Regions from separate parts of the Homo sapiens genome. Here region 1 is linked to region 2. The links come from fine-mapping of genetic effects on gene expression. A gene starts in region 2. The other region holds a variant in brackets. All regions are shown on one strand. Distances are from middle to middle.

Evidence for each region. PIP is the estimated chance that this variant, and not a neighbour inherited with it, causes the effect.
Region 1: its variant is the best candidate, but not a certain one, in a credible set for the expression of PTTG2 in whole blood (INTERVAL, PIP 0.68).

The regions. Positions count from the first base shown.
Region 1 is chr4:37,885,169-37,888,200 of GRCh38, forward strand. No RefSeq gene overlaps it. Among named protein-coding and RNA genes, the nearest start is that of TBC1D1, 4.4 kb to the right of the region's middle. The variant G/GT (reference allele first, on the strand shown) is at 1,524.
Region 2 is chr4:37,959,062-37,961,561 of GRCh38, forward strand. PTTG2 (pituitary tumor-transforming 2) reads left to right here and starts at 1,337. Exons shown (of 1, transcript NM_006607.3): 1 at 1,337-2,067. The coding sequence starts at 1,374. The coding sequence ends at 1,949. The region is part of intron 2 of TBC1D1 (TBC1 domain family member 1); the gene reads left to right.

The DNA of each region.
Region 1 (3,032 bases), 74 kb before region 2:
CATTATAAGGACTTTGACTTTTACTCCAGGGAATCTGGAAAGCCATGGGAGGATTCCAAGCCAAGCAGTGACATGGCCCAAATGATATTTTAGCAGATTCAAGTGGCTGCTATGTTAAGAATAGACTGCAGGGTGGTGAGGGCCGAATCAGGGAAACCAGTTAGCAGCTCCTGCATTCTAGGTGAGATTACACATTAGGTACCACCAATGGCATTTGGGGTAAAATGAAGTGGGGTTGCTGCAGGGTAGAGAGCTTAGTCAGCTTACCCAGTCTGAGTAAAATCATCGACATCCATAACTAGCTCTGACAATTTACAAAAAAATTCTCATTGACCTTAGACAAATTTAGATATCATAATTTAAAAATGACGTGCCATCTAACATTTGCCAAACTTTGTACTTGGTGCCCAGACCCACGGAACCAGCTCGGGTGGAAAGTGAGAACCCCAAGTAAAGGCTGGACATCGTCAGAGAGCTGCGTGGAGCAGTTGCTTGTGTAGAGCAATGACAAATAGGAGAGGTTGCTGGAAAAGGAAGTGGAACCAGTGCCCAGAGTTTTATCTGCTTTGTCCATAAAAGGAGATTAGATACTTCACAGAAGCCTACTCTGGGGCTTAAGTATACAGTCCACCCATTCTCTCACTGCATTGATTTACCGTTGTCTCTTGCATTGTAAGCGTGAGTTCTTCGTGCAGTAAAATTTTTGTTTATTTCAATTGCTGAAATTCTAAAATCTATGTTGGCTATCTGCTCATTTTAATTTTTTGCATCATATTTTATTAATCTTATGCCTTTCGGAAAGCAATTTCAGGGATCTAGTATTGCAGACAATTGGATGTAATATAGTCTCTGACTTTGATTTTCATTTTCTTGTCATGAAGAATATTTCTTATAGTTAATTAAGATATTTGGGAACTGGGCGCAGTGGCTCACGTCTGTAATCCCAGCGCTCTGGGAGGCCGATGTGGGTGGATTGCTTGAGTTTAGGAGTTTGAGACCAGTCTAGGCAACACAGCGAAATCCTGTGTCTACAAAACACTTAAAAATTAGCTGGGTGTGGTGGTGTGCGCCTGTAGTCCCAGCTACTCAGAACACTGAGCAGAGGATAGCTTGAGCCCAAGAGGTCGAGGCTGCAGTGAGCCACGAAGGCACCACGGCACCCCAGCGTGGGCAACAGAGCCAGACCCTGTCTCAGAAAACAAAACCAAAGGAAAGAAAGAAAGAATTAGGAAGAAAGCTAGGAAGGAAGGAAGGAAAAAGAAAGAGGAAGACAAAGAAAGAGAAAGAGAAAGAGAAAAAGAAAGAAAGAAAAGAAAGAAAACAAGATATTTGGGCATAACTTAACAGACTCTATGTTATTATTATTATTATTTAGAGACAGTTTCTCACTCCAACACCCAGATTGGAGTGTGGTGGTGTCATCACAGCTTGCTGCAGCCTCAACCTCCAGGGCTCAAACCATCCTCCCACCTCAGCCTCCTGGGTAGCTTGAACTACAGGTGTGCAACACCACGCCCAGCTAA[G/GT]TTTTTTTTTTTTGTATTTTTTTATAGAGGTTTTGTCATGTTGCCTAGGCTCATCTCCAACTCCTGGGCTCAAGTGATCAGCCCACCTCAACCTCCCAAAGTGCTGGGATTATAGGATAAGCCACCACCCCAGCCTTCACAAACTCTTTAGATCTAACTGTTATGCCTTGGATTGACAGGGTTGGCAAATTACCTGGCGCTGGTGTTGCAATGCTGCCTCCTCCCATGCTTGAGGCAGGTGCTGCTTCTCAATCTTGCACCCTTTCCCACTGAGCATGGACTTGCCTTACAAGCCTCGTCCACTCAGGGCTCCAGAAAGTCACTATCAATCAATGGGAACAAGCATACCCAGTGAACCACCTTACTATCCTAGGGTTCTAGCCAGTATAGTCTTATTTTTTGCCTTTATTGATGCCATTTTTTGGAAATGGACCCACTACCTTATTATGCACATTTTGAATTTAAGTAAAAATATATAATAGCAATAGTTTGGATTCCTAACTAATATGAGCATTTAAATACCTAACTGATGGATTTAATGATGATTAATTTTGTTAAAGGTCTTCTTTCTACATCAACGAAAGATTTTAATTCTAGATGTATATATGGTTCCCATGGTTCCCTTAACTTTTTAAAAGTAAAGTGGCCTCTGTTTTCTTTCAGGCTCTGAGCTTTTCATGTGATTTAATAGCATCGATGGTTCACAATTTTCTAGAGCTCTGCAGCCATCTTAAAGCTGATATTAATGTTCCTGGCTTTTGGCAATGAATAACTAATTATGCTGCAAATAGCTAAATTAGGAAAGAGTCTATGGGAGAAGCCCTAAAAGAATGATCCATGGCAGGATTTTGGGAAGAGCTGGAGGTGCGGAAGTTGTCCAGACAGGAAAAGTGCAGCAGCCATGATGGTCGGTGCCTTCGCATCAGGGTTTTCACTCGCTGAGCCAATGGGTCCATAGCTGATGTCAGCTAAATGCCCATGGTGGTGAAGAGCTCCACACTCCTTGTGTTCCTGGGTCATACTCCGTCAGAAGAATCAGAAGCTGAAGCAGAATCATTGGAGCATTTGGCCCTATTCTCTGCTTGCTTTTGTTATCGGTGACTTAAAGAGGGACCAACAGAACACCTTCCTGGGCCTTGAGGGAGCTCTCTGTTGCCATCACCAAGGCCCCATTGGCCCACGCTTCTACCATGGTGTGTACCAGCTCTCCTGGGAGTCACGTGGCCACATATCAAGGGGAAGGAGCTACTTCCCTCCTAGAGCAATGGCACCTGCAGGTAAGAGCTGAGTGGTGAGCTCTTACTTCTGCACTCTGCACTGGGCCAGTATGGATCTCCCCAACCACATTTGACAGTCTTCATCCTGCCATACCAGGTATCACCATCTGCTTCAAAGTCCCCTTTACTATTTGTTCTACAACTGCTAGAAAACCTAAGGCCAAATAGATTGATAGCAAGCTGTCCCCTAATTTCTAAGATAATGCTGTATAGATTTTAAAAAGAATTTCAA
Region 2 (2,500 bases):
CAGGTTAAGAGCAAGACTTCTAATGATACCTTTGAATGGCCCTTTGTATTTGAGGTGGCCTTATGCAAATAAACAGGCACAGTTGACCCTTGAACAATGTGAGGGTTAGGGGCGCCAATCACCTGCATAGTCGAAAATCCACCTATAACCTTTGACTCCCAAAAAGCTTAACCGATAGTCTTCCGTTGACCTCACCAATAACACAGTCGACTAACATATATTTCGTATGTTTTATGCACTATATCCTGTATTCTCACAATAAAGTAAGCTGAAGAAAATGTTATTAAGAAAAATCATAAGGAAGAGAACATATTGCATTATTCATTAAGTAGAAATAGATCATCATACAGGTCTTCACCCTCATTGTCTTCACGTTGAATAGGCTGAGGAGGAGGAGGAAGAGGAGGGGTTGGTCTTGCAGTCTCAGAGGTGGCAGCCGCAGAAGAAAATCTGAGAACAAGTGGATCCATGCGACTCAATCCTGTATTGTTCAAGACTCAACTGTATATTTTTGCATATGGGCTCAAATACGTACGCACATATGTCACTGGGTCAAAGATTCATAGAATGAATTAGACAACAAGAATATTTATCATTGAATTGAAATGGCTCACTGCAAAAGTGCCCTCAACTTATCTCTAGGCCTTAGAAACAGAAGTGACCCTTTGCTGCTGTGAATCAATAGCCTGGACTAGATTGGGGTTGGGTTGGCAAAGGTATATAGTCATTGCCATAGTCCAGTATTCCTGCCCAAGCAAGCACCATTAGTAGTCACGTTGCTCAGAGAGGGCCTCTCGGCTCTCCCCACCACTGCATGCTGGATTGTCTGCCACCAGTAGATCAGAGTTGGCAAAAGGGATAACTCGGGATGAAACATTTGAGCATTTTGCAGTTTAGAGAAACTTCAGGGGTGCTGCTTTAGTAAAAAATGGAAGACTTGCATTTATTAAAGGTTAGTAAGAAGTGAAATAATGTATGCAAAAGTACATTATAAATTAGAAAATGCAATAACGGCAGAAACTATTTATTTATTGGTTGCTCTGCCCTTTACCTAAGTGGTTTTTGACCATTTAACAATGTGTAAGAGTTGGGTTTTACCTCCATTTTATGGATGTGGAAATAGGGCTTGGATGTTAGCTAACTTGCCCAAATCTTACAGCTAACAGAAAGTGGTACTCCCGAGATTCCTACCCAGGTTTGTCTGACCTCAGGCCTGTGCTCTTTATATGAGTTCATGCTAACTCTCAGATGATGTGCTAGGCACAAAAATTAGATATTACACCAATTTCCACTATAGTTAACATTCTATCTAAATATAAAGTGGGACCACGGTCTTAGATGAATGTGGCTGTTGAGAGCGGCAATAATCCAGAATGGCTACTCTGATCTACGTTGATAAGGAAATTGGAGAACCAGGCACCCGTGTGGCTGCCAAGGATGTGCTGAAGCTGGAGTCTAGACCTTCAATCAAAGCATTAGATGGGATATCTCAAGTTTTAACACGACGTTTTGGCAAAACATACGATGCTCCATCAGCCTTACCTAAAGCTACCAGAAAGGCTTTGGGCACTGTCAACAGAGCTACAGAAAAGTCAGTAAAGACCAATGGACCCAGAAAACAAAAACAGCCAAGCTTTTCTGCCAAAAAGATGACCGAGAAGACTGTTAAAACAAAAAGTTCTGTTCCTGCCTCAGATGACGCCTATCCAGAAATAGAAAAATTCTTTCCCTTCAATCTTCTAGACTTTGAGAGTTTTGACCTGCCTGAAGAGCGCCAGATTGCACACCTCCCCTTGAGTGGAGTGCCTCTCATGATCCTTGATGAGGAGGGAGAGCTTGAAAAGCTGTTTCAGCTGGGCCCCCCTTCACCTGTGAAAATGCCCTCTCCACCATGGGAATGCAATCTGTTTGCAGTCTCCTTCAAGCATTCTGTCGACCCTGGATGTTGAATTGCCAGCTGTTTGCTATGACATAGATATTTAAATTTCTTAGTGCTTTGGAGTTTGTGTGTACTTGTATTAATAAAGCATTATTTGTTTAACAACATAATAAATACATAAATATAAAGTGGGTCATATTCCTCTTTATGTGCATCTGTCTCAGCTGTCCCTTGTTTCTATATTTCTTCCATACTACAGCCCGTACTCTTTGGGGATATGTCAACATGATTTACTTCTGTAGAGAAACAGGAGACAGGAAATAGCAAAGGATAAAGGAGAAAAGGCCAGGGCCAGGCCAAGAACTTCTACATCTTTTCTTCCCAGCCTAGTGTGAACCAGATGAAAGCCTTAAGGAGGTCCTAGCAGCAAAGGGAGATAATTAAAAGAATGAGAATTTTGTGGAATGCTAAAAAAAAATAGGGAACATATTTGCAGCTAGGACTAACACTGATTATCTTAAAATGTCTATATGGCTAAATAATGTTCATGAAATCCCGTATCTTATTCTGCTAATGTCTTACAACTTAAAGCACTTTTATGTCCATGCCTTGAATTCTGTA